Linked DNA regions of Homo sapiens. The protein of the gene in region 1 purifies or fractionates together with the protein of each later gene. This does not show direct contact. Each region holds a gene or a part of one and is shown in the gene's direction. Other genes may lie near its edges. The genes, in order: ZSCAN21, ZMYM6, LRP4, SORL1, PABPC5, GRHL1 and CLTCL1.

Region 1 (3,500 bases):
GTCTTAGGTTTAAACAGATGGCATCTAGCCAGTAGATAGCTTGATAAAATCTCAGAAACTATAATATCTATAGTGGTGAGATTCTGAACTAGTTTTGGAGCAAAGTTAACTTTAAAATTATGCCACATTGCACTTTTTAGGAAAGTGGAGACCACTGAAATCAAAGTAGGATATCCTGAGCTGATTGCAGAAAGATTTTTTTTTTTTTAGAGATGGAATCTCGCTCTGTTGCGCAGGCTGGAATGCAGTGGCGCAGGCTTGGCTCATTGTATCCTCTGCCTCCTGGGTTCAAGCAATTCTCCTGCCTCAGCCTCCCAGGTAGCTGGGATTACAGGCATCCATCACCACGCCTGGCTAATTTTGTATTTTTAGTAGAGACAGGGTTTCACCATGTTGGCCAGGCTGGTCTCAAACTCCTGACCTCATGTGATCCACCCGTCTCAGCCTCCCAAAGTGCTGGAATTATAGGCATGAGCCACTGTACCCAGCTCATTCCAGAAAGATTTTGAGCAGTTGTTTTTGTATGGTAGTTTTATGGTGGACATAATTTCCACAATTTCTTGTGTTAAAGGTATGGCTGTAAAGACCCAAAAACACTTTTCAGTTTGATTATTTTTTGGTAACTATATTTTCTTAGGTTTAACTTGTGGCCCTAAAGAACTGGAAACCCAAAGGAACGAATATTCCTGCCCCACAGAGTCCCATCTTTGGTGAGGCTGTTTCTGGAGTTTACATGATGACCAAGGTACTAGGCATGGCCCCAGTTCTGGGCCCTAGGCCTCCACAGGAGCAGGTGGGGCCTCTGATGGTAAAAGTCGAGGAGAAAGAAGAGAAAGGCAAGTACCTTCCTAGCCTGGAGATGTTCCGCCAGCGCTTCAGGCAGTTTGGGTACCATGATACCCCTGGACCCCGAGAGGCCCTGAGCCAACTCCGGGTGCTCTGCTGTGAGTGGCTGAGGCCCGAGATCCACACCAAGGAGCAGATCCTGGAGCTACTGGTGCTGGAGCAGTTCCTGACCATCCTGCCCCAGGAGCTCCAGGCCTGGGTGCAGGAGCATTGCCCGGAGAGCGCTGAAGAGGCTGTCACTCTCCTCGAAGATCTGGAGCGGGAACTGGATGAGCCAGGACACCAGGTAGGCAGGAGAGACCTTTGTTATTCTAGGAGATTGGGAGCGTAACATTCTAGGCAGGAACAAGGGTTTGTCCATACATTAAGATTTGCTGAATGGAAATTTCTGCTGAATTAGACCTTGTTTCCTCCTATTTTTCTCTATCATCCTAAACTAACTTTTAGCCTTGGGAATGGAATGGGATGGGTGTTTTCCTTTTCTCTTTCCTAGAGGTTCTATGTAGCTCTACTGGGATTTTCATTCTTGGTCTTAAAGTGAGCCATGCACAAACCTAGCCATTCCTGATTGTCTCTAGGTCTCAACTCCTCCAAACGAACAGAAACCGGTGTGGGAGAAGATATCCTCCTCAGGAACTGCAAAGGAATCCCCGAGCAGCATGCAGCCACAGCCCTTGGAGACCAGTCACAAATACGAGTCTTGGGGGCCCCTGTACATCCAAGAGTCTGGTGAGGAGCAGGAGTTCGCTCAAGATCCAAGAAAGGTCCGAGGTGAGGACCACCCATTAGACTCCTATTCAGTGCCCCAGGCCCCTGTGGTTGGAGAAGCAGAATAATTAGTAATTCTTGGTTGTGAGGTGATTTCATAGATTGACTTGATTAGTTGGGCTGACTGGGTGGAAATAGTCCCCTTTCCTCCCCCAAGTAAGGCTGTCTTAACCTGGGCCCTAGCATGGGAATGGATCACTCTTAAAGGATCAGTTTCTCTTTGAAGTCTGAGTATTACAAATAATTTTTTTTAAAGGGTCAATTGAAATGAGTTTAAAAAAGAAACTGTTAACAGAGGTGTAGAGACTTCAAATGAACCAATAAGGAATAGTGTTGCACCAGACAACAGTGAAAAGCTGTTACTCCCTGTGAGCCTAAAGGGACAGAGGGGGACCCTCTTACCAGAATCAGGTAAGAGCTATAGTCATGGAGGAGGGGGTCACTTGATAGAAGTTGTGGCTGTAGGCCCTGCTGTGGGATGAGGAGAAAACGGAATAAATACCCCAACTGCACCCTCCTCCTGCCCTTAAATCTCCTGCTTTTGTTCCCCAATGACAAACTCAGTTGGCAGCCAGAGGGCAGGAAAGACAAGACAGTGCAGCCCTTAGGGTCAGCTTCCTGGGGCACAGGGCGGGTCAGAGAATGGATCTGAGAAGGGCAAATGGGAAATAATTGGCAACCTCCTTTCTGAAGCTATGGAAAGAGGTGGGGCATTTTTCACAAGTCAAAGCTGTATTAGGTGACTACTCCTGAGCTCAAATCTCCATATATTATGGTTTATAGAATAATCTCAGGCCATAAATGGTCATCCCCTGTGGGGGTGTTTTTGTGTGTTTTTCTGAGACAGGGATTCCATCCGTCATCCAGGCTGGAGGGCAGTGGCGTGATCATAGCTCACTGCAGCCTCAATCTCTGGGGCTCAAATGATCCTCCCACCTCAGCCTCCCAAGTAGCTGGGACCACCATGTCTGGCTAACTTTATTTTTTTGTACAGACAGGGTCTCACTATGTTGCCCAAGCTGGCCCTATGTTATTTTGTTATTTTATGGGTTCTACTCTTAAGTACCTTCATTTACCAGAAGGATTAGAACTAAATCTTTGAAACAGAGTTAATGTTTAATTATATGTTTGCAAAAATATGGCATATTATTCCAAATCCTAATAGTTTCAAACCAGGACTTTGCTTACGTGTTGGTGGTGTAGACCACTATTTATGTGTGTGGTGTGATTTCATGACAAGAGTCCATGGCCCTCAGAAATCTCCCTCCATGCTTGCTGTGTCTGAAACGTGAAACTCCATCATGGAAACAGAGTTTCGAGCCGGTTAAAAATCACATTTTCTAGGAAAAGTAAAAAATTAAACTGTTAGCTAAATTCTTCATGGTTTATGGTGAACACAGTAGACCTCTCCAGGCAATTGGGGTTTCCCCAGAGTTGCCACAGTAATTAGAGATAAAAATAGCCGGAGACCTATCTGGTCAGTTTTATTTTCCATATCTCTTGGTGTAGCCCCTTGGCAGTATTACACAAAGAGGAGGGTGGAGTGGAAGGATTATCAGAGCCAGGAACAGGCTTGGGTTTTAGTACCCAGATGGGACAGAAGACAAAGCTGCTGGGCCCTCCTAAGGAAAGGGAAGTTGGCTGTGAAAGCTTTGCATAAAGTCTTTTTTTTTTTTTTTTTTTTGAGACGGAGTCTCCCTCTGTTGCTAGGCTGGAGTGCATTTATGCAATCTCGGCTCAGTGCAACCTCTGCCTCCCAGGTTCAAGAGATTCTCCTGCCTCAGCCTCCCGAGTAGCTGGAACTACAGGTGCACACCACCACGCCCAGCTCTTTTTAAAAAAACAGAGTTTCGGTCTTGTTGCCCAGGCTGGAGTGCAGTGGCGCT
Region 2 (3,500 bases), on another chromosome or scaffold:
TTTTAAAAAACTTCCTGTTTTGAAATATGTAAGGGTATTTTAACATTAAAAAAAAGGATGGTTGCAATTTCAGAATAAAGATAGGCATTTACATTTTAAAAATGTTTCATGATTACATTTTGTTTTAAAACGTTTTAAAGAATGTGGTAAGAATAAATAGGATTTTGTCTGTGATGATTTTATGTATAATGAGCAGATTGCATTGACACTCTTGTATCTTTTCTGCCATTAACAGAAAAGGCAGCTTGTAAATCTAAAATGATTGAAATCCAAACTCTAAATCATTCAGATTTAACTTTTCTTTTTTTCTTTTTCTTTTTTTTTTTGAGGCAGAGGCTCGCTCTGTTGCCCAGGCTGGAGTGCAGTGGCACAATCTTGGCTTACTGCAGCCTCCTCCTCCCGGGTTCAAGTGATTCTCCTGCCTCAGCCTCCTGGGTAGCTGGGACTATAGGTGTGAGCCACCACGCCCAGCCAGATTTAATTTCATTTATTGCTCCTTTTTGCCGGGTGCAGTGGCTCACACCTGTAATCCCAGCACTTTGGGAGGCCAAAGTGGGCGGATCACCTGAGGTCAGGAGTTCCAGACCAGCCTGGCTAACATAGCAAAACCCCTTCTCTACTGGAAAAAAACACAAAAATTCGCCGGGTGTGGTAGCGCAAGCCTGTATTCCCAGCTACTTGGGAGGCTGAGGCAGGAGAATCGCTTGAACCTGGGTGTTGGAGGTTGCAGTAAGCCAAGATCACGCCATTGCACTCCAGCCTGGGTGACAGAATGAAACTCCAGCCTGGGTGACAGAATGAGACTCCATGTCAAAAAAAAAAAAAAATTTTTTTTTTCATTTATTACCCCCTTTTAAACACACTACCTAAAAAATAGGTAGTGCTCAGCATTTGGAATAGCTATGTATTACTCCCATATATCAAAATTTCATTTGAAAAGTAGATAAAAGTATTTTAAAAGATTCTCTAATTCTGAAAGATTGTCTTTGTAAAGATTAGTGTAATAACTTGTAAATTTTGACTTTTGAGGTGCTTGTGAAGGTATTTATGATTAGACTGTTTAAGAGATGAATAGGGCCGGGTGTGGTGGCTCACGCCTGTAATCCCAGCACTTTGGGAGGCTGAGGTGGGTAGATCACAAGGTCAGGAGTTCGAGACCAGCCTGGCCAATGTGGTGAAACCCTGTCTCTACTAAAAATACAAAAAATAGTTGGGTGTGGTAGCACATACCTGTAGTCCCAGCTACTCGGGTGGCTGAGGCAGAAGAATCGCTTGAACCTGGGAGGCAGAGGTTGCAACGAGCTGAGATCGCGCCACTGCACTTCAGCCTGGGCACCCAAGTGAGACTCCATCTCAAAAAAAAAAAAAAAAAAAAAAGGAGATGAATAGGATAGAATAATTTTTTTTTGCTTGAATTTCTAGTTTACTTACATACATTGTATTCATTGCTCTTTTCTCTTTTCTTTTTTTTTTTAAAGGAGTATGGATGTGTCCAACAGCCAAAAACTCAAGAAAGTAAATTGAAAATTGGTGGTGTGTCTTCAGTTAATGAGAGACCTATTGGTAAGAAATGGAACTGTATAAGTTAGTTACAATTAATTTGCTTATTCTGACTTTTAAAATTGAGGGAAAGCATCTTTTCATGTATGTCTTTCTCTTTCTTTAGAGCTGTGTTTTTTCAAACTGTGAGTAGCTGGTTTTCAGCAGCGTTTTAAAAAATAGAGTAAGATTATATCAGAATATGATATGTGTAGTAAGGAAACATATTGTTTCATAAAACTTCTGTTTCAGTGATTAAATTGTACATACATCCCCACGTTTACAAACATATGTATGTGAGAACTGGGTTATAATATTAAATGTATTTCTTGCGTTGAGTAATGGTTAAAAAAAAATTGAAACCTCTGTTTTAGAGCTCTTATTGCCTCATTAACTGGATTTCAAGATTGGGAATTTGTCCTGAAAAAGAGAGACTGGGCTGGGTTTAGTGGCTAACACCTGTAATCTCAGCAACTTGGGAGGCTGAGGCAGGAGGATCGCTTGAGCTCAGGTGTTTGAGACCAGTCTGGGCAACATACCTTATCTTTGCTAAAAATTAAAAAAAAATTAGCTGGGTGTGGTGGCATGTGCCTGTAGTCCTAGCTACTCAAGAGGCTGAGGCGGGAGGACTGGTTAATCCTGGGAGTTTGAGGCTTCAGTGAGCCTTGATTGCACCACTGCACTCCAGCCTGGGTGACAGTGAGACCGTGTCTCAGAAAAAGAAAAAAGAGAGAGAGAGAGAGAGACTGAGACTGTATATGCATTAGTATTGATACTAAAACTTTTTTTATTTTGTTTTGATAGCCCAGCAGTTGAACCCAGGCTTTCAGCTTTCTTTTGCATCATCTGGCCCAAGTGTGTTGCTTCCTTCAGTTCCAGCTGTTGCTATTAAGGTTTTTTGTTCTGGTTGTAAAAAAATGCTTTATAAGGGCCAAACTGCATATCATAAGACAGGATCTACTCAGCTCTTCTGCTCCACACGATGCATCACCAGACATTCTTCACCTGCCTGCCTGCCACCTCCTCCCAAGAAAACCTGCACAAACTGCTCGAAGTATAAAATTCTTAACATCCCTTTTTACTTTACCTTTTTTTTAGTGTGTATATTGTTTAGTTCAAACATACTGTTGATACTTTAAATCTCTTCAGCATGTATCTGTAGAAATAACTTTTTAGTTAATGGAAGAATTCACCAATTTTAAAGTTTTGCAACATTAAATAAGTGACTTGGTGTTAGAATATTGCCTAAACCAGTTTTCTATCACTTTAAATTTTACTATGGAAAGAAATAACAAATGACATGTGGGAATTGCAGGACTATCCTGTAATTGTAGACACCCACCATTTAAATTTATTTAACAGTTATCTTGAAAGCTATTGGGTATAGCATAAAATAATATCACTCTTTTAATAGTATACAAAAGCTATTTAATTCTTTAAAAAGTAAAAACTCTACATGGTCGCAAAAATGTGTTTATTTCTAATGTCCTTGTGGGGTCATTGTTGCTTTACAATAATGCTTAGATGCAGAGAGAGGAAAAAACAGCAACAAAGTCACATAAATCTTTCCCTGACTTAGTACATTTGAAGGATTTGGCATATTTTGCCTATTTCTGTGGTAGTGTAATTTGAGGAATACAGTGTGTTGTTAATAGTCACTACAGGCAAAAAACAGTAAGAGCTTGCTTTTAAATTGTGGCTCTGTCATTTATCTCTGTGACTTCGGGCTAGATGTTTAACTTTCTAAGCCTCCATTTCTCATCAGTAAATAATAGTTGCTTCCTAGGACTTTAATGAGACAGTGTTAGCAAATGGCCTAGCACATAGCAAGTACTTAAAAAATGGAATCCTGTTATTATTAATAATAAAAATTATATCGTGCGATTATTTATAATTAACATAAATAAATATAATAAATATATGTGTATATAATACATATTACTATGTATACTTAACATATC
Region 3 (3,500 bases), on another chromosome or scaffold:
AAAGTTTAAGGTGCTTATTTGGATGCTGCTAGTCCTTGGGGCTTTTCCTAGAGCCTATTGGTTTGGACTCAGCCCACATAACTCTCCAACCTTAAAGATTTTGGAAGGAAACTTGATGGCTGGTAATAGCCCTGAGTGATTTTCATCCTGAAGTTTGAAGTAAGGGCATGGATGACAACCATTGGAAGAGTGGAAAGTGTGTTTGTTCTAGAGGTCTCATCCAGGTAAGGGAAATGTTAAAACTTCTGCCTAGGCGTGCTTGGGTAGATAGAAGGTTGTATCTGAAAATAAGTGCAGAGCAATTGAGCTGAGACTGGTCTCCTTTCCATCTCGCTGTTGTCGTGACCAGGGTTGTCATGGTGCTTGAGTGACCTTGTCCCTGATCTGTTGGGCTTGTGAAACATACTTGGCTTGTCACTGATTTTGGATTTCCTCTTCTGTACCCTGATGAATATCAGATAACATCTTTTGGACTGGCACGTGGTATTAAGAATGACAGGTGCAAGGGAACCAAGTCTGGCCATGTCTGATACAGAGCACGTTGGGTATGTCCATCTTCTGGGCCAGCAAAGAACACAGGAGGTCACAGAGGACACGGTGTTTTATAGCTCTTTGCTCACTCTTTCTACCGATTAACTGCCAGTCTTAACTGTTAGAAGGAAAATAGGAGAAATTGTTTATGTTGCTGCCCCTTTAAAGAAAAAAAAAATACTGGGGGTTCCTGAATAGGAACAGAATTTCAGGGACTACTTTAAGAAGTAATCTTGTCTTTTTTATGATTGGGTAAGATTACGAGACAGTCTGTGCCCTTGGTTGACTAGGTCTGTTAGCCTGTTCCAGCCATGGTCTCTCTACATTCCTTGATGCAGCTTAGCCACGAGTTTTGTCACAGTTGCCTGGACATGGGGCATCTGGGCCCCAGACTGTGTCTGGACTGCCATCTCATCTTCAGCAGCGGAAGCCCTCCTCCCCTCCTCAGCCTGTGAGGATTCAGTGTCCCAGGGAAGACTCAGTGCTGACTGGTTAGCTGGCAGAGCCTGAGTTTGACCTTATAAATAGTTCTGATGACTGCATGGGCTTGTCACTCTCACTCCAGCTTAGAGCTGGCAGGAATGAGTTCCTCGTACAATCGGGAGCATTCCTCAAACTAGGCTCCACACCCATTCACTTGTTCATTCATTCAGCAAACACACATATGTCAAGCATTAATATAATCACTGTATACGAAGCTCAGCAATTAAGAAGCACCCACAGACCTGGGTTTGAATCTTGGCTCTGGCAATTCTTGGTGACCCTGTGCAAAATCTCCCTGAACCTCAGGGTTGTTACCTGCAAAGGCGGGTAGGGTAGGGGAAGGGAAGTAGTAATAGATTATCACATAGGAATATCATAAAATTTACCTGAGATAATAGCATGTTCAAACTATGCAGCACAGAGCTTGGCAACTACTGTGTTACTGTAGAGCTTGATAAAAGTTAGCTGTAAGCAAAGTCACCTAAGTGGATCCGAGATGATTCTTGGCTTTAGAACATGGGAGCCAGGTAAATAATTATGCTACCGTGTTCTGTGCTAAAATTGAGACTTGGTCCTTCATTCATTGCAGCTGGTCTTTTGCTTGTCTCTTTTAAAGATCTGCCCCTTCTTTCTCCCCTTGAAAACGTGATAGAACCGAAGCATAGTTCCCACTTGTGCCCACTCCTAGAAAAGAAGTCTGCTAAGCTATAACATCAGTCTAGGGGAACTCATGTCGCCTTAGTTCTCTTGAGAGAGGTCTGGGGAAATGGAGCTTTTCCTCTGAGAGTTTCCCTTCTTAAGTGGTCAGGGATGCAGCCTAGCAACTTCTCCTGCTAAGATTCCTGTGACATGGGGTGAGAGGGGCTGGCCAGGGACTCTTGTAGCTGGAACAGTTTAGAATTCCAAGCCCTCCCTCCCATTGGCCTGAGAAAGGAGTCAGGCTCCAGAGCTCATAAGGTAGTAATTGCCCCAATTTGGGAGCTGGGCTGTTGTGGAGCCTTCGCAGCTACCATTTTCAATCAGGAAGCCTGTCAGCTTGCAGGCCTAATTGATGTGGGTCTCCAGCCCCGAATAGCCCCCAACCCCTAGTTCCTCCACCTCAAAGTTTGACCCCTGTTGTCTCTTTTGTTTCTTCTTTTTAAGTTGGTGCCAGTGATGTGATTTTTGGGAGCTGCGGAAAGTTGACCGTAACCAAGAGCAGCTGTTAAAAAGAGCCAATTCTCTAGCTTCCTGACGGTTGTCTGCCTCCATTTTCTGTTGTGCGTTTTTGATTTAGCAAGAAGCAAACATCCTAGGTGCCCTTGGGCGCCTCTTACGCCCATCCAAGCAGACTTCATTCTTTCACTGCTCGTAGGCATTCCCATTCTTGCTCACAGATGAGCGGACTGGCTGTTAGCGCTCCCTGACACCCTGTTTCCCCATGCGGAATAGGACTCCCCCATCATTCAGGTTCGAATGAGGGGAGGGGCGCTGTCTGGGACCCAACTGGGGATAGCCTGGCTGGGACTTGCTGCAAGCCCTGACTTGGCCTATGGGAGCTCCCCCTCACCTCTATGCACAGCTGAGGATCAGAGCGGCAAGCAGAGCCGGAAACAAAAGACTGGGAGCAAACCTCCCATCTAGCTGAGAGGCAGTGACACAGAGGTGCTGCTGCATAATTTATCACCGGAGGTTTTCTGGAGCCGGGAAGCTCCTGGCTCCAGGCAGTGCCTTTTTGCGGGAGAGGGACCCTCCCTCTGTCTGGGTGTAGGGCAGAGCAGGTACAGAGAAGGGTATCCAGAGAGACACCTGATTAGCATGTGAAATAAAGAAGCTGCAAGGTTGTAAGTGCCTCCAGGGATCTCTCCAAGCTCGGCAGCTCCACTTCCTGTCACGCCTTGGGGGAGGTGGGGAGGGGTAGTGGCCTGCAACCACGCGCTGGCATGGATGAGGACAAGAGACAGCTTCTCTGTTGAGTTGACTGTAGCCTCCTTCTAACCAAGTGGAGAGGCCAGGTTATGGCATCCACAAGCCTAGCAAATAGGAAAGGGGAGCCCCAGGTTTTCCACCCTCCTTCCACGGGCAGTTTAAACAATAAGTTTCAACTACAGGCTCCCAGAGCCAATAAAAGCCAACAACTCTACAATGTATCTTCCCCAAATGAGAATTTCTGCTCTTCTAGGAATGATCTCCTCCAATGACAATTTTTGCAAATTGTGGGATATGTGGATTTACAAATTGGGATATGTGGTTTAAAAAATCCAAATGTATTTCTGGAGCAGTTAGCATTTTTGAGAGCTTTGCTGTGTCCCTGGTACTGTGATAAGCATTTAGTATATGATATCATATTTATTCCTCACAATATCCTTATGAGGTAGGTAACATTAGATTCCCGTCTTACATTGGCCAGGTGCGATGGCTAACGCCTGTAATCCCAGCACTTTGGGAGGCTGGGGTGGGTGGATCACTTGACGTCAGGAGTTCGAGACCAACCTGGCCAACATGGT
Region 4 (3,500 bases), on another chromosome or scaffold:
GCTCAGACACTGTCCAGCTTCTTGCCCTCTGACCTTTGAGTGAGGTTAAGAGGACACTGGCAGCACAGGTTAGGGCTGGAAGCAGAAGCTGCCTGAAGGAAGCAGGCCTAGAGGCGATGTTAAGGCCACCACCTTCAGGGAGAAGAGAAGGGAAGGCTTTCTAGGGGAATACTTGCATCTGAGAAAGAGCCCTGTGCTGGAGTCAATGTCGGTCCTTTTTCCTCTGCTTCGCTAATGTCTTGGGTAAACTAGGCTTGGTTATTTTGACCATTTTCCTCCTCAGTTTCTCTAAGGTGGGGAGACCGGCTTCTGCCATGATTACTTAAAGGCACATTTATGATACTGAAATGTGATTGTAGGGGTGAAAATAATTTGCTGGCAGATATCAGGACTTTTCTGCCCATGTTCAAGGCTCACGCCTGTAATCCCAGCACTGTGGGAGGCCGAGGCGGGTGGATCACTTGAGGTCAGGAGTTCGAAACCAGCCTGGTCCACATGGGGAAACCCCGTCTCTACTAAAACTACAAAAATTCACTGGGCGTGGTGGCAGATGCCTGTAGTCCTGGCTACTCAAGAGGCTGAGGCAGGAGAATCGCTTGAACCCCGGAGGCGGAGGTTGCAGTGAGCCGAGATCGCGCCATTGCACTCCAGCCTGGGGGACAGAGTGAGACTCCATCTAAAAAAAAAAAAAAAAAAGGCAAAGTTTAGAAGTTGAGCCCCTTCTTAAAGGCCAGGTCCAAGAAGAGGGATTCCCTAATTCATGCCACACTGAATTTCCTCCTGATTTCTCATAAGCTCTGTCTGTCTGCGCCATCATACCTGCTTTTTCCTCTGCCTGAAATGATCTTCCCCAACTCTTGTCCTTGCCTGGGAAGCTCTTATTCCATTCTTTAACATCCAAGGAATACCTCTTGGTATTCTCAGGCTATGGTGGGAAGAGTTTCTTCTGAGCTTGGAGGCAGCACTTACTGCCTTGTGTTAGAATTGCTCAACTGTCTCATCTTCCTGTTTGCTCCTTGAGGGCATGGATCAAGTTCTCTTGTGTTTCCCTGGCACTTGGGAGGCCCTTAATGAGTATTTGTGGACCAGCCACACACCTGGAAGAAGAGAGGCCCAGAGGGTAGGAAGCACATTCACATTATATAAAATGTATTTGTAAGGAGGAATACAGTGAACCCACACATGGATAGTGAAAATGAGATGGCTCATTCGGTAGTGAGGATGCAAGCGGCATGGCCTACAGATAGTGGAGCCCTGATTTGCCTGTGCTATATGGGAGTTATTTTCAATGAAGAGCTTGGATTCTATTTTACAGAATCCTCCCTTTTAGGGCTATCATTCTGGTTTATGCTAATGGTATTGTTTTGGGGAAAAATCCTTTGGAATAAAGCACAAAGCCTAACAGGATTTACAGGTTTATTTTCCTTCCAACAAGCTCTCTCTTCATAATTCCTACATTTTAGAAGCCAGGGAGTATTCAGTGTCCTGATTTGAGACTGAAAATAAAGTGTCTATTACAGCACAAGGCCCTGGGACAAAAGGCCTCCTTTGGGGGTGGAATACCGTTCAGCTTTAGATCTCTTTTGAGTAGATTCTTCCATGATACACTTGCTTGGGAAAGAATTGGCTGGTTGATTCTGAAGTTAGGATGTTTGACCTGTGTGCTTCCAGAATAAGATGAGAAGGCAAAGAATGTGCTGCTTCAGGTTGGCTTTTATGTAGCTGAAGAGTTGCTCGGGGCCTTGGGTTGGCTCAATAAGGGACGTGACCTTGAAAAGCTCTTCCTGGTTCCACTTGGCGTCTTTTCTTAGGGAGCTCTGTGCCCAGTCTCTGGCCGCTTTTAGTTCATAAATAGCTTGCATGGTTAGAGGCACAGAAGGTGGAGGCTTTGCGAGGGGGAAGGAATGGAGGAAAGGGGTTGGTGAGAAGAGTAAGGAGGCGGAATTTGGAGGGATGAAATAAAAAGCTGTCTGATTAGGTAATGCACGTTTACAAAACAAAATTTGTACAAAAGCGTATGTGGTAACAAATTTCCTTCCCTCTCATGCCCCCTGTTCACCCAGAGCTCCTTTCCGGGTGGCATCCGTTGTTATCAATATTTTTGTATATCTTTCCAGAAACAGTCTATGCATGTACAACATGTATGTACATAAAATTGGAAACTTGAATTATAAATGGCTTCCTGTTACCTGTAGTCCCTGGTATCCTGAATAATGAGATTAACTTTAGCTCTAAATTATATTTGTGATATTATGATGGTGAATTGTTAGAAAATTACCTGAAGTATCATAATATAAAATAGATGATTACTTTTTTTCCAGGCCAGGTGAGAAAAACCTCATTCTCCTTTCACTTCAAGCGTTCTTGCAGAGCAGGAGAGCAGCCTGATGTAGCCCCCTTGTAACTTGGAGAGATGCTGGAGCACAGTTCCCTTGAGATGTGGAGTCCAGGCTTGTAAGAGCATCAGAATACAGTGATCATGGATCTTGGTTTTAATTTGTGTTCTGTCTGAGAATGTTTTCTCTATGTTCTGTAAAATGAAGTTAATGGTATGCTTAATAAATTGCTTTGAGACTTGGGATCCACGAGGCAGATCCTTATAGCAACGAACATCCCAAGGCAAAAGGTGGATGTTGTAGGAACATTTCATTGTCAGATTTTGGTCTGTTCCTCCTTAGAGATGACAGCCATCTTCATAGTGTCATTGTTGAATCCCAGGGCAGAGATAGTTGGAGCCAGCTTTGTTCCACCCACTGTAATGGAGGGACACAGGGGGCAGTCTTATCATAATCTGGAGAGCAGGTAATCCAAAAAATAATCGATTTGCTTTTGCTATGTATTTATGTAGTCTTTTTTTTAAAGCATTCGTTTACCTTCCTAATTAAGTTTTGCTCAGGTGAATATTAAAATGAGTTTGCATTCTTTGATCTATTGATAAGGGAAATGGCTGGCCTAAATGTATTCAGGGAAAGGCAGTTTGGAGTTTAGAATTTGCGACAATAATTCAGATGCAGATAATTGAGAGTTGATAAAAATGTATTAAATGTTTTAAATGAATAAAAATGTATTAAAACCTGGGGGCATTACATTGACCTTTCCTCCATTTATTTGGATTTAAATAAATGTGATGGAAAGTAAAAGAGAGCTCACTGCATTTTTGGTTTGAATATTCAGGGATTAGTATTTCTCCAGAGGTGGTCTGGGCTGTGGGGGTGAGGCATTCTCTGTTGATGAGCATGGGACTTTCCTATGCATTTTCTAGGTATGCCAGACACTGTTGGCAGATGGTATAGTCAGTCTAGCCACGTACATGCAAAAATCAATTTCCCTCAATTTAAAATGAGCCACAGTTAATTTCGACCTAATTTATTGGCTTATCGACCTGTGAACCCTGGGCCTTCGAAGAAGTGGCATGGGCGGCCTTCAAGCGCTGAAGTGGCTGATGAAGCTAAAATCCAGAAAAGGCAGGGTGGGCTGCTGAGCAAGATCAAGATTTGAGT
Region 5 (3,954 bases), on another chromosome or scaffold:
TTTCTGGAGGGGTAGGAATTGTGGAAGGAGCCTCTTGAAGTGTTGTTTGCGCATGCTAGATATCAGTGAATTTCTGAAAACACGGTCAAAATTTCTCTCCAAAAGGGTTTCTCAAATACTCTGAAGAGAGATATTGTTGAGAAACTGCTGAGTTGAGTCCAGTCTGATGGCACTGTTTCCTTCAAGGGTTTCAAGTTGACAACTCATGATGAAATTCATAATTGTGTAAAGTGCATATATCTTAACATGTTTATTTCATCTGTAAATATTAATTACATATTTTGTATTGATTCTGTGGCTTTTATCTCTTTAACTGAGATTTTGTAACTGTAATTCTCGCGGCAGCTCAACAGTTTCAACGTTTTGTGGCACTAAACACCATCAAAAGCCATTATATGGCTCTCCAATCATTAAAACCTTAGTATTATGGGATCAGAGAAAAGATCTCTTTGCCTACCACCTGAGGAAAATATTACCATTATGTTGGAGATTAATGAAGTAAGGCTAAAGGCCAAAGGCAACATGGTCCTGTGTTCTACTTGACCCTGTGATCCTTTAGCACTGGATTGGGAGGCCAGGACATTTGTAAACTTTGACTTTCCAATGCACTCAGGAAAGTATGCAACCTATCCTTTTCCCTAAGCTTAAATGATTTTGATAATTAGTTTTTTAAAACTTATTATTTTTGCCCAGGTCGTCATCTTCTTATGTGATTTTTAGATGTTCGGCTTAAATATAGTGTTTTAAATAATAAATAACATTTAAAATATAAGAAACATCTAAAAGCCATCTTAGATTTTTCTTTCTCTCCTTCTCTCTCTCTCTCTCATTCTCTCCCCTTCTCTCTCTCTCTCTCTCTCTCTCTCTCTCTCCCCCCTTCTCTCTCTCTCTTTTTTTTTAAATCTTGGTACAGAGGAAGCGGGAAGTTACTTAGCACGGTTCCGGGTTTCTCGCGCCCCGCCTGTCCCCCCTCCCTATCACTGCTACTGGCTCTTGGTCCCTCCGTTGGACTGTCCTGCGGAGAGAAACCCCAGCCCATCGGTCTGCGCTGGGACCGCCCGCCGCGCATCTGCCCTTCTTCGCTGACTCCGCCCCGCATCTGGCCAGACCCGCCTCGCGTCAGAGCTGACCCACTCACTGCGCGTTTGCCAGTCAGTCTCTCCGGACCTGCCTCGAGCCTCAGGCTGCTGAAATCACCGCGCCTCACTCGGTCCGTACCCAGTGGGCATCTTGGGTATCTGGGCGGTCTTCGATCCCCCGCGCGTGTGTCTGTCTGTCTGTCTCTGTGTCCTATCCGCTGCCTGCAGCCTGCCTGCCGGTCTTATCGCACCAAGTGTCTGGTGTACCCTTTCGCAGACGCTGAGTGCGGAGAGGCCTTAGCGAAAGGCTAGCCAGCCCGAGACTGGCCAGGCAGCCGGCGGAGGAATACGCGCTCGGTCCCTGCCCTTGTTGATATCATTTTAAACCAACAGGAGCTCTAGGCCTATATTTATGCAGAAAGCGGGTCGGGAGGCCTCTGTCTGCAATGCTAGTTGTGGGGAACCAGCCAGCTGCTTGGTGGCTTCTCACAATTTCACGGGGACAGGAAAATTACGTTTCTGGTACTGGCTTTTGAAACTGATTTTAAATCTGAACGGGTGACAATTTTAAGTCCCCGCAGGGAGAATAGATTCGTATTTGGGGCGCCTTTTTGTCTGATGTGTTTGTTCTGAGCCTGCTGACCAGCTGTTTCTGAACTTCATTTTCTCAGCCTCGACAGTGATTCTGAGTCTGCTTTTAGCTTCCTTTTGCCTGCCTTGGCTTTTTCTGTTCGTGAACAGCTGTTTGGCCCATAGCTTAGAGAAAGCAGCCTTTTTTCTCTTCAAAGAGAACCTCCTCCCAGTGCTCAGAGAGATGGGGAGCGGGGAGCCTAATCCTGCTGGCAAGAAAAAGAAGTATCTCAAGGCCGCTCTGTACGTGGGTGACTTGGACCCAGATGTCACCGAGGACATGCTCTATAAGAAGTTCAGGCCTGCTGGCCCTCTGCGATTCACCCGAATCTGCCGTGATCCGGTGACCCGCAGCCCCCTGGGCTATGGGTATGTTAACTTCCGCTTTCCCGCGGATGCAGAGTGGGCCTTGAACACCATGAATTTTGATTTGATTAATGGAAAACCATTCCGCCTTATGTGGTCTCAGCCAGATGACCGCTTAAGAAAGTCTGGAGTGGGAAATATATTCATCAAAAACCTGGACAAATCCATAGACAATAGGGCCCTGTTTTACTTATTTTCTGCTTTTGGGAACATTCTGTCCTGCAAAGTCGTATGCGATGACAACGGCTCTAAGGGTTATGCCTATGTTCACTTTGACAGCCTGGCCGCTGCCAATAGAGCCATCTGGCACATGAATGGAGTGCGGCTCAACAACCGCCAGGTGTATGTTGGCAGATTCAAATTCCCAGAAGAGCGGGCGGCTGAGGTCAGAACCAGGGATAGAGCAACTTTCACCAATGTTTTCGTTAAAAACATTGGAGACGACATAGATGACGAAAAACTGAAGGAACTTTTCTGTGAATATGGGCCAACTGAGAGTGTTAAAGTAATAAGAGATGCCAGTGGGAAATCTAAAGGCTTTGGATTTGTGAGATATGAGACACACGAGGCTGCCCAAAAGGCTGTGCTAGACTTGCATGGAAAGTCCATCGATGGAAAAGTCCTCTATGTAGGGCGAGCACAGAAGAAAATTGAACGCCTGGCTGAGTTGAGGCGGAGATTTGAACGGCTGAGGTTAAAAGAAAAAAGTCGGCCCCCAGGGGTGCCTATCTATATTAAGAACTTGGATGAGACAATCAATGATGAAAAACTGAAGGAGGAATTTTCTTCCTTTGGGTCAATTAGTCGGGCCAAAGTGATGATGGAAGTGGGGCAAGGCAAAGGATTTGGTGTGGTCTGCTTTTCCTCTTTTGAAGAGGCTACCAAAGCAGTGGATGAGATGAATGGCCGCATAGTGGGCTCCAAGCCCCTGCATGTCACCCTGGGCCAGGCCAGGCGCAGGTGCTGAGAATAAGAATGCTCAGTTTGTTTCAGCCTTAGTTGGTGCCTCCTTAGTTTGGGCTCCTTTGTGATAAGGGGTTATTTTATGCTAATTCACAAGTTTTTTTTTGAAGTGAATTCTTTTGAAAAAAAAATGCAAAACTAGAAAACTTTATTCATTTTAGAATAGAACATAATTTCTAACTGTAAAATTGTCATTTTGTACTTTTTTTGATGTAATATCCTTAGAAATCTGTAGAATAAAGTGTATTCCTCCACTTTTTTTTCCTGAACAGTCAAGGTGAGGCAATTGATTGAGTATATTTCCCTTCTTATTTCAGTAATACTCTATTTTTTTTCATGAAAATGTCAACATGGTTCTTCTGAATCTATCACAGTGAAAAGTTCTAACTTGTTTTTGAGAAGTCAGTACAGCAGGGGAAAACATATGTGATGCAATTAACATCTGCATAATTTCACTTAAAATTATTATGCAAAAATGAATGTTTTTTCAAAAAATGTGAAATGTATTTTATTTTCTTTATTTGTATTCTTGTTTCATTTTTTAATATGTTGTGAACATGCTACAGATTTGATAGTACTTTTGACTAAATGTTGGGAGTGGTCGTATTAACTTCTTGCCCAAAGAAGTAAGCATATTGGTGTTTTCTCAATTAGTCACTGAGAAAATTAACACTTTAGGCAGTGGCTATTTAAAGTAGGAATTGCATCTTAAAAACCTTTCCTAAGAGATTTGGTATGTGAGGATACTTTCAGTACCACTCCTACCATTCATTTTTCTAAATTCCTTAGTACATATACTTGGATCATGTTAAATTAACAAGAAAGATGAATAACTGCGCTGAATTGCCTTTACCTATAAATAATTTAATATTTTACCTTCGGGTTTTATCAACTGTCAATATAAAAGGCAGTACTC
Region 6 (3,042 bases), on another chromosome or scaffold:
AGAAGCTAACAAAAGTGATTTTTAATCAAGTACAATCTTAAAAACTTCATACATAAAAACAGTGGCTCCTCAGTCTACCTTTAAAACTCCCAATCCTAGGAAATTACTGAACTTGCATCAAGACCTCACTACAGCCTATTGCAGAGAAAGTAGACGTGTAACCAGTGATGGCCGTAAGTCCATCTTACGAGGATCTCAGCACGAGGCTGGAATAAACTGACCCCATGCTCCCTGTGGGGATATCAGTAAGAGAGGAAACATGGAAGGCTGCTGTGTTAATTTCCCGTTCCAGCTGTGCACTGGAAAAACGCATGTCATCAGCACTGAGTGCAGATATTTACCAGCCTGTCTCCTAGAGACCGTAGAGATCTTTAAGCTCAAAGTGTGTCCATAATTGGGCTAAAAGCATCTCCCCCAGCTCCCTCTGATGACTGTAGTGTGTTGAATTCATTTAACACATCTTGATAAAGGGCTTGCTTCATGCCAGGCACTGTGGCGGGCACTGGAGTTATGCGCGTCAGTGACACAGTGCTGAATGGAGTTTATTTTGTAGTTAGGAAGACACAGACACCAAAATAAGCAAAGAAGTTGAGGTCATTTTTCAGGTACTGATGAGTGCCATGAAGATTAATAAAGCAGGGAGATGGGGCGTGGGTTTGGGGAGCTGCTGTGCGGTCTCTCAGCCAGGCGCCCCAAGTCCACGGGTGTCACTCAGTGCATCCCTGCCTGCCCACAGCACAGGCAGCGCCGTTCCCACTGTCACTTCCTGCCTCCTAGGATGTCCCCTGGGTTTCTCTTTTCTTGCCTTTTGATGACCCTTCATCATGTCTTAAGAATCATGCAAACTGGCCAGGTGCGGTGGCTCACACCTGTAATCCCAGCACTTTGGGAGGCAGAGGCAGGAGGATCACCTGAGGTCAGGAGTTCGAGACCAGCCTGGCCAACATGGAGAAACCCTGTCTCTACTAAAAATACAAAAAATTAGCCAGGCTTGGTGGCAGGCGCCTGTAATCCCAGCTACTCGGGAGGCTGAGGCAGGAGAATCACTTGAACCAGGGAGGTGGAGGTTGTAGTGAGCTGAGATCCCGCCACTGTACTCCAGCCTGGCATAGCAAGACTCCGTCTCAAAAAAAAAAAAACAACAAAAAACAAACAAACAAAAAACATGCAAATTCTGATTACAGGGAAAGAGGAGAGTAAAGAGGATGCAGAATTACTGGGCCAGCATAACTGTTCATGGCTCACGAGGAACTCATGACAGGTCTTACATGTCAGAACACAAAGTATTATCATCCACTCGTACAGAAAAGAAAAAGGGTTTGTGTGGTGAGAACTTGGAGCTGGGGTCTGGTCTGAAACACGTGTTTGGAAGGTTGGCAGGATCTGCACGTTTGCCACCTGAGGCTCTGTTTCTCAGTGCCACCTTGAGCTTTGCTCTGTGGCTTGAGGTGAAGCTGGTGATGCCAGCCTGAGGATGGTCTGGATGACAAGTGTAACGTTTGATCTAGAGTGAATCAGCTGTTTGTCCTTGGAGCAATTCACCCATTCTCTTTAAAAATATTAAAAATAGCCTCTATGTCCCGAAAGGAAGACAGCCACAGCTCCCCAGAAGCTCATTACAGTGAGGGGCAGCCGGGCTGAGGAGAGCTGGAGGCCCCCAGCACACGAGCTGGGGCTTTTCCATGTCTTTGTGTCTGCGTTTTTGAAAAACAAAAAGTCGAGTGACTATGCATGTGTGTGTGTGTGTGTGTGTGTGTATATATATACATATATATACGTATATATATACATATATATACGTATATATACATATATATACGTATATATATACATATATATACGTATATATACATATGTATATATGTGTGTACATGTATATATATACATATGTACATATATATGTACACATATATATATACATATATATGTACACATATACATATATATGTACACATATACATATACATATATATGTACACATATATATACATATATATGTACACACATATATATACATATATATGTACACACATATATACGTATATATGTACACACATATATACGTATATATATGTACACACATATATACGTATATATATGTACACACATATATATACGTATATATATGTACACATATATATATACGTATATATATGTACACATATATATACGTATATATATGTACACATATATATACATATATATATATTTGTTGTTTGGTTTCTAAAGCCTTGATACAGGGTTTTGTAATTATTTTTCTTTCCTCTTTTAGATCTCAGACAAATACGATGTTCCCCATGACAAGATTGGGAAAATATTCAAGAAGTGTAAAAAGGGGTAAGCAGCCACTGCGTCCTGTGTACCTCGGAAAGTGCTGATGCCCCCCGCAGTGCTAGTGTGACGCACCCCCCAGTGCTGTTGACACCCCCCAGCACCATGTAACACACCGTGCATGCTAGTGACACCCTCCTGTGCCAGTGACACACACCCTGTGCCAGTGTGACACGTGTGCATCGTGCCCAGTCCAGAAGCAGCCAAAGAAACCTGGGTGCTGGAATGTGGCTTTTCTAAATTATATACGAAATTACTTAGATAAAATTGATCTGCCTTGAGGAGATCTTTGTGTATTGTTTCTCCAAGTCACCTTCTTTGCCCTCCACATGCCTGGCAGCAGTGCCATGGCTCCACACTCCAGGGTGTGTGGCCAGCGCCACTGAGGATGGCCAGGGCAGCACCTCCGTGTGTCGAGCCCGTTGGAGCCGGGCACTGGGTTGGGCACGTCCCACGGTGCTGCGCTTGGTCTTCACGTCTTCTTTCTGAGCTGGTCTCAGGGCTTGTTTATATTTATAGACAGGCGGCTGAGGCTCAGAGTTCAAGAGGCTTTTCGGGGCCATGGTTGGTATTCCCTGCCTCTGCAGCCCATGCCCTGCTCTACCCTCCTGCTCAGGATCCTATTTCCAAGTTATGTCACGTTGCTGCTTTGTCTAGAAATTAGTATTTTTAGTTCTTTTTTGTCTGTCTATGATGTTTGGCATGGATAAG
Region 7 (3,500 bases), on another chromosome or scaffold:
TGGGACACAGCGCAGTGCTAAACAGGAGCCCTTTCAGGGTTTTGCCCAAACTGTCCACGTCGTAGGAGGCTTCTAACAATAACTTGTGTTTGCAACACTGAAGTTACTTGACCTTGACTACCCTAGGTCAACCCTAGCCGGACCCCAGCTGTGATTGGAGGGCTGCTTGATGTGGATTGTTCTGAGGAAGTGATTAAACACTTAATCATGGCAGTGAGAGGACAGTTCTCTACTGATGAGTTGGTGGCTGAAGTAGAAAAAAGAAATAGGTAAGGTGTCCTTACTTGGTGTTTTCTCTTACCCCTGGATTCTAGTGTCTGTTGTTGTTTCTGTCTAATTCTCCAGGACTGTCTCTATAGCTGGTCGTTCATGTACACATCTTAGATGTAGCAATGAGTTACTTGCTATTGGTACTGTGAAGACCTTGGGGGAAAACCTAACAGTAGAAATCAGTTTGGAAACCAGGTCCATCTTGGTCCCTAGAGCAACCTGAAGTCAATGGACTCTGAGATTTTTTGTTTCAGGAAACATCTGTCAGAGCCCTGGAGTTGCCCTCAAGACTTCCAGTGGTAGCCTTGAGACTTTACAGCACCTTCCTTCTTTCAAAGGCTCAAGCTGCTGCTTCCCTGGCTGGAGTCCCAGATTCAGGAAGGCTGTGAGGAGCCTGCCACTCACAATGCACTGGCTAAAATCTACATCGACAGCAACAACAGCCCCGAGTGCTTCCTGAGAGAGAATGCCTACTATGACAGCAGCGTGGTGGGCCGCTACTGTGAGAAGCGAGACCCCCATCTGGCCTGTGTTGCCTATGAGCGGGGGCAGTGTGACCTTGAGCTCATCAAGGTGGGTAGCAGATGTGCTGAGCTGCCCATGTAACCCTGGGCTCCCAGGGAAGCTTTCAAAGGTGTGCCTGTGGGGAGCTGATCAGGGCTTTCTGTGCACCTGGAGATGGCAGGTCATGAGATTATTTCCTTGTGATTCTCACAGCTTTTGGGAACTTGCTCATGCAATTTGTATGCATTGTACCTGTAGACCAGTTGGTCCTGAACCTGACTTATCATCCCTCTGCTTACAGTCCTTACTATTGCCTGGCAATTTGAGGGCAGAATTGAACTCCTTGGCCTGACTCGTGAGCTCCTCTGTGGACTGCCACCTTTCCCAACTCCCGAACTTGATCAGCCATCCATCTTGCCACCCCACCTGGAGAGGCCTGCAATTCCCTGGGTGCCTCATGTCCCGAGTACCCTTGTACTTCATGCCCCCTTTTTGGGGTAACCCTCTACACAAGCCCTTCCCCATCACCTGACCAATGAGCTCTTGCTGGCCTCTCCTTGAGACATCTGCCCAGGTCTTTTGCCTGCATCTGCCCAGGCTTGGATCCACATATAATTACATGTTTAGGTTGAATTGTATGAACTGTTCCTACCTAATCATTTGATCTAAAAATCCAGACATGAATAGGGCACCTGTGAGGTTGGTGCCACACCAGCCTGCTTGGGCTTTTCCTGTGATACACAGGCGGACTGCGCTGCATCCGCAAGCACGTGTGCACGCCGCTCAGCCTTGTGCCGGGCATCTGGCACTCAACAGATCTGATCCTCACCAGGATTTAGCAAGTGCTGCACACGCTAGAACATTCCAGTGGACTGTTGGTGTTTTGGAGATCTGTTATAACATTCAGAAAAAGGTCTCCAGATCTACCAGTGAAAGCACAGTTTACAGTTTTTAGATCTTGAAACATTGCAGTGTTTGTGCTGTTTTATACCAGTTCTAGGCTGTTCTGATAACATTTTACAGATGGTTTAAAGCTAGCTACATATGAGTACTTAAATTTAACTAAATTAAAAATTACCAGTTTAGTTCCTGTCACGCACCACATTTCAAGGGCTCAGTAGCCTCCCATGGCTAGTGGCTGTATCAGACAGAATGGGAGACAGAGCATGTCCCTGAATGCAGGAAGTCCTACTGGCCAGATATGTGGCACATCCCTGGGAGTTGTTGTAAACTTGGAAAGGGCATTTTGAGGTAGTTTGAGTCCATCGTTAACCCTGTAGGATGCTGCTCATCCCATGTCAAAGCATAGCGTCTTGCCTGGGCCCTGACTGTCCACCAAACCAGTATCAGGCACACAGGGAACGAATTGGGGTGTGTCCTCCCAAGCAGCTTCCGCTGGTTGGCTGCTGTGTCACACACATGAGTGTGCTCATTTCAGGTGTGCAATGAGAATTCTCTGTTCAAAAGCGAGGCCCGCTACCTGGTATGCAGAAAGGATCCGGAGCTCTGGGCTCACGTCCTTGAGGAGACCAACCCATCCAGGAGACAGCTAATTGACCAGGTGAGGCACAGAGATGGGTATGTCTGCACACCTGCATTTTGCCGTCCGATCATCATTGTGGCTCAAGTGACTGGTTTCATTTTTAATTTAAAACATCTTGGCTGAGGGCAGTGGCTCACGCCTGTAATGCCAGCAATTTGGGAGGCGGAGGTGGGTGGATCACTTGAGGTCTCAGGAATTCAAGACCAGCCTGGCCAACGTGGTGAAACCCCATCTCCACTAAAAATACAAAAATTAGCCGCACATGGTGGCACACGCCTGTAATCCCAGCTACTTGGGAGGCTGAGGCAGGAGAATTGCTTGAACCCAGGGGGTGGAGGTTGCAGTGAGCCGACATCGTGCCACTGCACTCCAGCCTGGGCGACAGACAGAGACTCCATCTCAAAAAAATAAATAAATAGGCCAGGCATGGTGGCTCACGCCTGTAATCCTAGCACTTTGGGAGGCCGAGGCGGGTGGATGACTTGAGGTCAGGAGTTCAAGTCCAGCCTGGCCAACATAGTGAAACCCCATCTCTACTAAAAATACGAAAACACACTGTGTGGCGCATGCTTGTAATCCCAGCTACTCAGGAGGCTGAAGCAGGAGAATCGCTTGAACCCAGGAGGTGGAGGTTGCAGAAAGCCGAGACTGCACGCCACTGCACTCCAGCCTGGGCAACTGGGTGAGACTCTGTCTCAAAAAAATTAAATAAATAAATAAATAAATAAATAAATAAATAAATAAAACATCTTAGTCCTTACGAACCTTCTCCCCTGCAGAAATAGCTTGCCTAAAAATAGCTTGATTCCCCAGGGTAAGCTGACTTGGAACTGTTAACTGGCCAAGGGCATAGAGTTGGCCCTTGGATCCAAAGCAGGGATATGCAGCCCAGGAAGAGAGTACCTGGTGTCATGCCTGCATGCTGGGCCCAGCTCAGCCCTCGTGGACAGAGGTGAAGTAGCTTTCAAGGTTGTCTCAGCTGACTTCCCTTTGTTGAGGTGCTCTTTATGCCCCTGTGACTATCCAGCACCTCCTTGGAGACTGGGCAGAGTGCTGGGGCCAGGGGTCATTATTGGGTATGGCCTGGCAGGTGGGAGTCTGCCTCGGCCTCTGGGAGGGCTTCCCACAGCCCTGTGGAAGAGCCTCCTCTCCAGTTATAGCCTCACAGACATTTGCAGATAGT

What was found.
Region 2: the proteins of ZSCAN21 (region 1) and ZMYM6 purify together in Homo sapiens (affinity purification with mass spectrometry; one large-scale study listed by BioGRID and IntAct). This does not show direct contact.
Region 3: the proteins of ZSCAN21 (region 1) and LRP4 purify together in Homo sapiens (co-immunoprecipitation; 2 studies listed by BioGRID and IntAct, with this or other methods). This does not show direct contact.
Region 4: the proteins of ZSCAN21 (region 1) and SORL1 purify together in Homo sapiens (affinity purification with mass spectrometry; one large-scale study listed by BioGRID and IntAct). This does not show direct contact.
Region 5: the proteins of ZSCAN21 (region 1) and PABPC5 purify together in Homo sapiens (affinity purification with mass spectrometry; one large-scale study listed by BioGRID and IntAct). This does not show direct contact.
Region 6: the proteins of ZSCAN21 (region 1) and GRHL1 purify together in Homo sapiens (co-immunoprecipitation; one large-scale study listed by IntAct). This does not show direct contact.
Region 7: the proteins of ZSCAN21 (region 1) and CLTCL1 purify together in Homo sapiens (affinity purification with mass spectrometry; one large-scale study listed by BioGRID and IntAct). This does not show direct contact.

What each region holds. Positions count from the first base shown.
Region 1 is NC_000007.14:100,056,274-100,059,773, forward strand, and holds part of ZSCAN21 (zinc finger and SCAN domain-containing protein 21), read left to right. Parts: intron 1-637; 5' UTR 638-733; coding exon 734-1,132; intron 1,133-1,424; coding exon 1,425-1,617; intron 1,618-3,500. UniProt on the Homo sapiens protein: Strong transcriptional activator. Plays an important role in spermatogenesis; essential for the progression of meiotic prophase I in spermatocytes.
Region 2 is NC_000001.11:35,018,446-35,021,945, reverse strand, and holds part of ZMYM6 (zinc finger MYM-type protein 6), read left to right. Parts: intron 1-1,478; coding exon 1,479-1,563; intron 1,564-2,343; coding exon 2,344-2,593; intron 2,594-3,500. UniProt on the Homo sapiens protein: Plays a role in the regulation of cell morphology and cytoskeletal organization.
Region 3 is NC_000011.10:46,912,051-46,915,550, reverse strand, and holds part of LRP4 (low-density lipoprotein receptor-related protein 4 precursor), read left to right. Parts: intron 1-3,500. UniProt on the Homo sapiens protein: Mediates SOST-dependent inhibition of bone formation. Functions as a specific facilitator of SOST-mediated inhibition of Wnt signaling.
Region 4 is NC_000011.10:121,455,314-121,458,813, forward strand, and holds part of SORL1 (sortilin-related receptor preproprotein), read left to right. Parts: intron 1-3,500. UniProt on the Homo sapiens protein: Sorting receptor that directs several proteins to their correct location within the cell. Along with AP-1 complex, involved Golgi apparatus - endosome sorting.
Region 5 is NC_000023.11:91,433,685-91,437,638, forward strand, and holds the start of PABPC5 (polyadenylate-binding protein 5), read left to right. Parts: upstream 1-1,154; 5' UTR 1,155-1,210; intron 1,211-1,218; exon of another isoform or gene 1,219-1,315; intron 1,316-1,750; 5' UTR 1,751-1,893; coding exon 1,894-3,042; 3' UTR 3,043-3,954. UniProt on the Homo sapiens protein: Binds the poly(A) tail of mRNA. May be involved in cytoplasmic regulatory processes of mRNA metabolism. Can probably bind to cytoplasmic RNA sequences other than poly(A) in vivo.
Region 6 is NC_000002.12:9,996,693-9,999,734, forward strand, and holds part of GRHL1 (grainyhead-like protein 1 homolog), read left to right. Parts: intron 1-2,272; coding exon 2,273-2,337; intron 2,338-3,042. UniProt on the Homo sapiens protein: Transcription factor involved in epithelial development. Binds directly to the consensus DNA sequence 5'-AACCGGTT-3'.
Region 7 is NC_000022.11:19,218,720-19,222,219, reverse strand, and holds part of CLTCL1 (clathrin heavy chain 2), read left to right. Parts: intron 1-126; coding exon 127-269; intron 270-608; coding exon 609-843; intron 844-2,212; coding exon 2,213-2,335; intron 2,336-3,500. UniProt on the Homo sapiens protein: Clathrin is the major protein of the polyhedral coat of coated pits and vesicles. Two different adapter protein complexes link the clathrin lattice either to the plasma membrane or to the trans-Golgi network.